Homo sapiens: one gene and its partner. The protein of the gene in region 1 purifies or fractionates together with the protein of each later gene. This does not show direct contact. Each region holds a gene or a part of one and is shown on either strand. Other genes may lie near its edges. The genes, in order: NAT16 and FUT1.

Region 1 (4,429 bases):
CTGGGCAGAGCCAGGCTAAAAGTTAAGTTTCCTTGGCTTCCAGGCCAGGGGGGAGACCTCTTATTATTATTGTTGTTGCTTATTTGTTTATTTTATTTTGTTCTTTTGAGTCGGGGTCTCGCTCTGTCACCCAGGCCGGAGTGCAATGGCATCATCGTAGCTCACTGCAGCCTCAACCTCCTGGGCTCAAGCGATCCTCCCACCTTAGCCTCCCGAGTAGCTAGGACTACAGGCATGTGCCACCACACCTGGCTACTTTCTAAAATGTTTAATTTTTTGTAGAGATGGGGGTCCCACTATTTTGCCCAGGCTGGTCTTGAACTCCTGGGCTCAAGTGATCCTCCCACCTCCACTTCCCAAAGTGCTGGGATATTAGGTGTGAGCCACCATGCCCAGCCAAGATCTGTTTTTAGTGTATCTGGATCTCTGACCCCAGCCTGAAGAGCAAGGAGGGGAACTACTGGGTCCTTGAACAGGAGTTGAAGGGCCCAGGTGGGATAAGCTGATGAAGAACCAGAGATGCGGTTGCTAGGAACTCCCTCACTGTCTGGCCCACACTGTCAGCAATCCCTATGCCAACACACAAGCCTCCATGCCTGGAACCAGCCCAAGCCCCAGACCTCTTGCACCACGCTCTGAGGACAATGGGTCCCAGAGAACAGCAAGTTAGCTCCTGACTCCATCTGCAGCTCCAGGCAACATGAACCAGCTGTTCATGGGTCCCAGGAAAATGCAAGCTAGTGGTTCAGTGGTGCTTCCAGCAATACCCTCACTACCCCCAAAGGTGATAAGTTGTGAGCAACCGGTAGACTGGAACCCACCTGACTCATTCAAGACATTTGGCTCCAGTCTCCTTCCCTTGCTTACAGTGGGGAGACCCTTTCCAAATGGCATTTATACGTCTCAGATAAGGTTGTTTGTCGTGGGAGGTAAGGGTAGGGGTGGACGTGGGGAGTTCCCAGAGTCATGGGGAGGGAAGAACTTTCCAATGCATCCCCCATCTTTCAACCCAGGCACCACCTCTACCCCTGTTCCATTTTGGGGGACATGAACAAAGGTTCCCAGGTCCTTAAACCTTGGAGGAGGCGAGTAATAAAACAGGTCAGCGACTCCAGGCCAAGCCAAAGCTGTGGGCTAGCCTGTAACCCTTGCTTCACATGGTGACCACTTCCTACCCTCCAGTCCAGCACCCTCCAGCCTGGCTCCGTGGAACTCTTAACTCTCATCAGATGTCTAGGCAGAGGCGGAGGCAGCTGGTGAGTCCAGGGCACTGTCAGAAATGTAGTCCAGGTATCTCCTGGACCAAGCGCCCTCCTAAAAGAGGGACAGCATTTCTTGGCCGGGCGTGGTGGCTCATGCCTATAATCCCACCACTTTGGGAAGCCAAGGGAGGCGGATCATCTGAGGTCAGGAGTTGGAGACCAGCCTGACCAACATGGAGAAACCCTCTCTCTACTAAAAAAAAAAAAAAAAAAAAAAAATACAAAAGTAGCCGGGCGTGCTGGCGCATTCCTGTAATCCCAGCTACTCAGGAGGCTGAGGCAGGAGAATCGCTTCAACCCGGGAGGCCGAGATTGTGGTGAGCCGAGATCACGCTATTGCACTCCAGCCTGGGCAACAAGAGTGAAACGCTGTCAAAAAAAAAAAAAAAAAAAAAGAGGAATAACATTTCTCTCTTCATGTCTATCCCCACATCCTTGGGGACATTCTTTAAATCTCATAAATATGAATGATCTCTTTGGGGAGGGGGTGATCAGAGTCATAGCTGGGCATGATCGGAGTCAGAGCTGGGAATGCCGGCAGCCCACCCACCCGCACCCCACTCCCACCACACCCCACACACCTGAAATATCGATGCCCTTGAGGCCGATGGCTTCTTGACACTGGGGGAGGGAGGAGAGGGAGGGAAGGGAGAGCCCAGTCGCCGGAGAGGCGGAGACAAAGAAGGCAGCTGCACAAAGCGCCCAAAGATGAGAGCGAAAAGGACGGGAATGGAGGCAGAGAGCAGACAAAAGCGGACAGGAGATGCGGCCGCAGGGGACAGGCAGGGAAGCCGGAGGAGGCTTCGACACCGAATCACAGACATGACACCTCGTGACTCTGGGCCCAGCAGATGAAAAAAAAAAAATCCTAGCACGCACCCCCTCCCCTGGGACACTGTAAATAGAAAGCAGCGTGACACACCCCCTTCGCCCCGGGGTATGGGGGGCGGGGATCCGTGGAGGGGAAGGGGTCAAGGGGAAAAGAAAGTCAGAAAAAAGGCCGTAAGAGAACAACCTTGGAAACAGAGACGGGGAGAGGCGATGAAGTGGGGGCGGGAGAGAAGGCCTAGGGGGTGGGCAGAGGCAGGGGCCGAGGAAGATGGCCCAGCCAAAGGGGGTGGGGGGAGGGCCCCAGAGGGCCACAGTAGTGGAGAAGGGGGGGCTGTCCTGCAGGGTCTTCCCGAGTGAGGGTCTTCCCTCTGCCTCTACCCCGGATTGGGGGCTTGGGCTTGGGGGAGAGGGAGATTGCAAAGGGAGCGATCTGCTTGGCGGGGGTTCCCCTGGGCGCCGGACCCTGGGGACAGGTGGGAGCGACATGGCAACAGAGGGGGGCGGGGGAGCGCTTCTGGACACCTGAAGCGCAGCCTCTGACTCAGTTTTCTGGGTCTTCGGACTGGGAGGGGCTGGGCAGAAGGGGGCGCAGCCGCTTGGTCCCCCTGAGGGGCGGTGGCCTTCTGCTGCCCCATTCTGCGGTGGAGGAGCACGCTAGCCCCCTCCCCAGTCCCCAGGCCCGGCCGCCCCCCTACCTCGCCGGAGCCGGAGCTGGAGCCAGGGCCGAGATGCCGCAAAGCCAAGCGGGGCGGGCGGCGGGCGCAGACACCCCCGGTGCCAAGAGAGAGGTCCCTTTGGAGCCCCCAAGAGTCAAAGGAGGATGACGCGCGGGGACTCGGCCGCGCTGTCGGAGCCCGACTCTAACGTCGGTCAGCGCTGGGGCAGCGCCGCAGCTCCGTTGGCGACGCGGGCCGGGGCGCCCATCGGTTCAGGGGTTCGGGTGGCACGCGTGGCTCCCCCGGCGACGCTCCGGCGGCAGCTTCGAGGGGCGGAGACCCCGGCGACGCGGAAGAAACCCGGGACGGATCCGGAGCGGACTCGTGCCCTGCTGGCGGGGCCGGGGGTCGGGGTGCGCCCTGGGCAGCTGGGTGGCCTCAAGCCCTACTGGCGAGACTCCGCCCTGTGTCCCGGCTGGGGAGTGGGACTGAGGATGGTGGTGTCTCGGGTTTTGGTGGTGGTGATGCTGGTGTTGCTGGCTTAGTTATCTCCCCACCCCACGCCCAGCACCTCCGTTCTCTGTCCGGGGGTCCCCCACTGCCCTGAAGTACCCCTCCTCCAGGAGCCACCCCTCAATGGAATCTCCTCTCTCCATTATAAGAGCGGCTGGGAAGGGGACTCCGAGCCTTCGTCCCCGGAAACTGATAGAGGGAATCAGAAACCCTAGAACACCGGGAAGGCGAAGAGACATCAAGAGACAGAAGTTGAAAGGCTGAAAAGGGCAGAGGGAGGCCAAGATCTCTCCATCTTCTCACCACTGCGTGGGTGCCTGAGCACCCTGGTTCCCCGGGTGCACAAGGCCCCTAAATCCACAATGTACCCCACGGGACAGCAGGCAGAAAGACCTCCAGGTACACAGCGCACACCCAGGCACATTCACACAGACCTCTGCACTCAGGAGGCGCTGCACCCCACGCTGATCCTGGTGGCTGGGGAGGAAGAGGGAAGTGTGGAGCTGGGACCCGGGTGGGTGCAGCGCTGCCCCTGCTCTAATAAGGCGGTGGCCCAGGCTCTTAACTCCTACAAGGTTCTCCATCCCACCTATAAAGTGAGCTCAAGACTGGGTGCGGTGGCTCAAGCCTGTGATCCCAGCACTTTGGGAGGCCGAGGCGGGGGAATCACTTGAGGTCAGGAGTTCGAGACCAGCCTGGCCAACATGGTGAAACCCCGTCTCTACTAAAAATACAACAATTAGCCTGGCCTGGCCGGGCACGGTGGCTCATGCCTGTAATCCCAGCACTCTGGGAGGCCGAGGTGGGAGGATCACCTGAGGTCAGGAGTTCAAGACCAGCATGGCCAACATGGCGAAACCCCGTTTCTACTAAAAATACAAAAATCAGCCGGGCACAGTGGCCTGCACCTGTAATCTCAGCTACTTGGGAGGCTGAGGCAGGAGAATCGCTTGAACCCGGGAGGCAGAGATTGCAATGCGCCGAGATCGTGCCACTGCACTCCAGCCTGCGCGGCAGAGCGAGAATCCAACTCAAAATAAAATAAAATAATAAATAAAGTGAGATCAGAACACCTTCAGTTCTACCCTGTAAGGAGCCAGGAAAGTGATGGACAAAGCCCTTTAGCAACTGTAAACTGCTTTGGAGATGCAGGGAATAATTTTTTTT
Region 2 (4,490 bases), on another chromosome or scaffold:
TCACCCTCCCAAATAGCTAGGACTACAGGCGCCCTCCACCACGCGCCCGGATAATTTTTTGTATTTTTAGTAGAGACAGGGTTTCACCGTGTTAGCCAGGATGGCCTCCACCTCCTGACCTTGTGATCCGCCCGCCTCAGCCTCCCAAAGTGCTGGGATTACAGGCGTGAGCCACCGCGCCCGCCCGAAATAGTGAAAGTCTTAAAGTCTTTGATCTTTCTTATAAGTGCAGAGAAGAAAACGCTGACATATGCTGCCTTCTCTTTCTGCTTCGGCTGCCTAAAAGGGAAGGGCCCCCTGTCCCATGATCACGTGACTTGCTTGACCTTATCAGTCATTTGGACGACTCACCCTCCTTATCCTGCCCCCCCTTGTCTTGTATACAATAAATATCAGCGCGCCCAGCCATTCGGGGCCACTACCGGTCTCTGCGTCTTGATGGTAGTGGTCCCCCGGGCCCAGCTGTTTTCTCTTTATCTCTTTGTCTTGTGTCTTTATTTCTTACAATCTCTCCTCTCCTCACAGGGGAAGAACACCCACCCGCAAAGCCCCGTAGGGCTGGACCCTACGTTAGCCTGCCCTGCTCGGGGTTGGCGATGCTGGAGGTGGGCCTTGGACCAGAGAAAATGCTTTAATTAGGTGACAAGCGGGCAGAGGCCTTTGTCTCTGGCGCCGGCAGCCACGGCCCCCGCTGACGGCGTGGGAAACAGACCCTGTTCCACTCCGGTCTCCAGCCTTGGAATGGTTGCCTTCGTGCAGTGCAGGTCTGGAAAGTAGCAGTTTGGCACGGGACCCTAGAATTCCCCAAAAGGAGTGACTAGGGGCTGGGATTCTGGAATTTGAGTGTGGACGGTGAGGCGGGGGGTGTGGGAGATCGGAGACCCTGGTGGGCGCGGGAGCACCTGCAGGCTGGAGGCCCTCGCGCGCTCCGGCGGCAGCCTGGCAAACAGGTTCTCCATCCCCCAGGAGGACGCGGCAGAGGGCGGACGATCGCTCCACTCGCCGGGACCAGGTGCGGGGGCCCTGCCCAGCCGCTGGGGCGTGGCCAGGCTCGAAGCACCCAGGTGTCGGGGGCCGACTCTAAGCCCTGGCACCGGAAGAGAGAGGGCGGCGGATTGGACCTCCCGGCTCCAGCATTGCAACTGGGCGCTCCGTCTCCTGGTCCACGCAATGATGCTGCGGCTGCTCAGAAGCCAGGTAGCCTGCCCTGGGTGAAGCCTTCGCGCAGGTCAATGACGGGGCGGAGGGGCAGGGCGCGGTCCCCTGCATCCCCGATCTGGGGAGCGGTGGGCCCAGGGGCCATCGCCTTAGCCCCTGGCGCTGGGGCTCGGCGCCAAGTGACGGGCGGGGCTCCACCTTCCAGCCATCCGCCCGGCCCGGGAGGGCGGACGCTGCGAGACTCCCGGCCGCGCCCTCTCCTTCCTCTCCTCCCCAAGCCCTCGCTGCCAGTCCGGACAGGCTGCGCGGAGGGGAGGGCTGCCGGGCCGGATAGCCGGACGCCTGGCGTTCCAGGGGCGGCCGGATGTGGCCTGCCTTTGCGGAGGGTGCGCTCCGGCCACGAAAAGCGGACTGTGGATCTGCCACCTGCAAGCAGCTCGGGTAAGTGGGGACTGCCCCACTCAGTTGTTCCTGGGACCCAGGAACAACTCCTTCAGAACCAGGAGGTGCACCCCCAACCTCTTCTCCAGGTCTTCCTAAGGCCCTAGGAATCTCCGCCACCTCCCCAGCCATTACTCCTCCAGGAACCAAGATGCTCCTTCCGCTCCTGACCCTCCAGCCTCTCTTGTTTTACTTGAACTATCGTTTCCCATCACCACCTCTGTGGTGGATTTTGCGCCTCACAGACAGGTACTCCTGAGAAACAGGCTGGTGGAAGAGTCCAGTATCAGCGGAACTTACAGGAGGGGAGACTCGAGATTCCTTCAGGAAAGGTGTAGGAACCTGGACCACTTTCTTTTTTTTTTTTTTTTTTTTTTTTTAAGACAGGGTCCCTCTCTGTCGCGCAAGCTGGAGTGCAGTCAGCGGTGCTATCGCGGCTCATTGTGAGCTCCGGGGATCCTCCCGCCTTAGCATCCGGTGTAGCTGAGACCACAGACATGTGCCACCATGCCAAGCTAATTTTATTTATTTTTTTTTGGAGACGGAGTTTCACTCTTGTTGCCCAGGCTGGAGTGTAATGGCATGATCTCAGCTCACCGCAACTCCCGCCCCCCGGGTTCAGGCGATTCTCCTGCCTCAGCCTCCCGAGTGGCTGGGATTACAGGCATGCGCCACCATGCCCGGCTAATTTTGTATTTTAAGTAGAGACAGGGTTTCTCCACGTTGGTCAGGCTGGTCTCGAACTCCCAACCTCAGGTGATCCACCCACCTTGGCCTCCCAAAGTGCTGGGGTTACAGGTGTGAGCCACCGCGCCTGGCCCATGCCAAGCTAATTTTAAAATTTTTTTGTAAGAGTGCTCTGTTGCCCAGGCTGATCTTGAACTCCTGGGCTCAAGGGATCCTCCCATCTCAGCCTCCCAATATGCTGGGATTACAGGTGTGAGCCACAGTGCCCAGCCAAACCATGGCTATCTTGAAAACCACTTGTCTTCCAGTCCCCATGCCCCGAAATTCCAAGGCTCTCATCCCTGAAACCTAGGACTCAGGCTCTCCCTACCTCAGCCCCAGGAGTCTAAACCTTTAACTTCCTCTTTCCCTGGGACTAAGGAGTGCTGCACCCCAGGCGCCTCCCTTACCCCACATCCCTCCTCAGCCTCCCCTCCTCAGCCTCAGAGCATTTGCTAATTCGCCTTTCCTCCCCTGCAGCCATGTGGCTCCGGAGCCATCGTCAGCTCTGCCTGGCCTTCCTGCTAGTCTGTGTCCTCTCTGTAATCTTCTTCCTCCATATCCATCAAGACAGCTTTCCACATGGCCTAGGCCTGTCGATCCTGTGTCCAGACCGCCGCCTGGTGACACCCCCAGTGGCCATCTTCTGCCTGCCGGGTACTGCGATGGGCCCCAACGCCTCCTCTTCCTGTCCCCAGCACCCTGCTTCCCTCTCCGGCACCTGGACTGTCTACCCCAATGGCCGGTTTGGTAATCAGATGGGACAGTATGCCACGCTGCTGGCTCTGGCCCAGCTCAACGGCCGCCGGGCCTTTATCCTGCCTGCCATGCATGCCGCCCTGGCCCCGGTATTCCGCATCACCCTGCCCGTGCTGGCCCCAGAAGTGGACAGCCGCACGCCGTGGCGGGAGCTGCAGCTTCACGACTGGATGTCGGAGGAGTACGCGGACTTGAGAGATCCTTTCCTGAAGCTCTCTGGCTTCCCCTGCTCTTGGACTTTCTTCCACCATCTCCGGGAACAGATCCGCAGAGAGTTCACCCTGCACGACCACCTTCGGGAAGAGGCGCAGAGTGTGCTGGGTCAGCTCCGCCTGGGCCGCACAGGGGACCGCCCGCGCACCTTTGTCGGCGTCCACGTGCGCCGTGGGGACTATCTGCAGGTTATGCCTCAGCGCTGGAAGGGTGTGGTGGGCGACAGCGCCTACCTCCGGCAGGCCATGGACTGGTTCCGGGCACGGCACGAAGCCCCCGTTTTCGTGGTCACCAGCAACGGCATGGAGTGGTGTAAAGAAAACATCGACACCTCCCAGGGCGATGTGACGTTTGCTGGCGATGGACAGGAGGCTACACCGTGGAAAGACTTTGCCCTGCTCACACAGTGCAACCACACCATTATGACCATTGGCACCTTCGGCTTCTGGGCTGCCTACCTGGCTGGCGGAGACACTGTCTACCTGGCCAACTTCACCCTGCCAGACTCTGAGTTCCTGAAGATCTTTAAGCCGGAGGCGGCCTTCCTGCCCGAGTGGGTGGGCATTAATGCAGACTTGTCTCCACTCTGGACATTGGCTAAGCCTTGAGAGCCAGGGAGACTTTCTGAAGTAGCCTGATCTTTCTAGAGCCAGCAGTACGTGGCTTCAGAGGCCTGGCATCTTCTGGAGAAGCTTGTGGTGTTCCTGAAGCAAATGGGTGCCCGTATCCAGAGTGATTCTAGTTGGGAGAGTTGGAGAGAAGGGGGACGTTTCTGGAACTGTCTGAATATTCTAGAACTAGCAAAACATCTTTTCCTGATGGCTGGCAGGCAGTTCTAGAAGCCACAGTGCCCACCTGCTCTTCCCAGCCCATATCTACAGTACTTCCAGATGGCTGCCCCCAGGAATGGGGAACTCTCCCTCTGGTCTACTCTAGAAGAGGGGTTACTTCTCCCCTGGGTCCTCCAAAGACTGAAGGAGCATATGATTGCTCCAGAGCAAGCATTCACCAAGTCCCCTTCTGTGTTTCTGGAGTGATTCTAGAGGGAGACTTGTTCTAGAGAGGACCAGGTTTGATGCCTGTGAAGAACCCTGCAGGGCCCTTATGGACAGGATGGGGTTCTGGAAATCCAGATAACTAAGGTGAAGAATCTTTTTAGTTTTTTTTTTTTTTTTTTGGAGACAGGGTCTCGC

Evidence for each region.
Region 2: the proteins of NAT16 (region 1) and FUT1 purify together in Homo sapiens (affinity purification with mass spectrometry; one large-scale study listed by BioGRID and IntAct). This does not show direct contact.

What each region holds. Positions count from the first base shown.
Region 1 is NC_000007.14:101,177,254-101,181,682, forward strand, and holds the start of NAT16 (probable N-acetyltransferase 16), read right to left. Parts: upstream 3,041-4,429; 5' UTR 2,789-3,040; intron 1,984-2,788; exon of another isoform or gene 1,844-1,983; intron 1-1,843. UniProt on the Homo sapiens protein: Probable N-acetyltransferase. Shows only trace activity toward L-His and no N-acetyltransferase activity toward other amino acids. The physiological substrate of this enzyme is unknown.
Region 2 is NC_000019.10:48,749,599-48,754,088, reverse strand, and holds the start of FUT1 (galactoside alpha-(1,2)-fucosyltransferase 1), read left to right. Parts: upstream 1-1,447; 5' UTR 1,448-1,599; intron 1,600-2,805; 5' UTR 2,806-2,807; coding exon 2,808-3,905; 3' UTR 3,906-4,490. UniProt on the Homo sapiens protein: Catalyzes the transfer of L-fucose, from a guanosine diphosphate-beta-L-fucose, to the terminal galactose residue of glycoconjugates through an alpha(1,2) linkage leading to H antigen synthesis that is an intermediate substrate in the synthesis of ABO blood group antigens.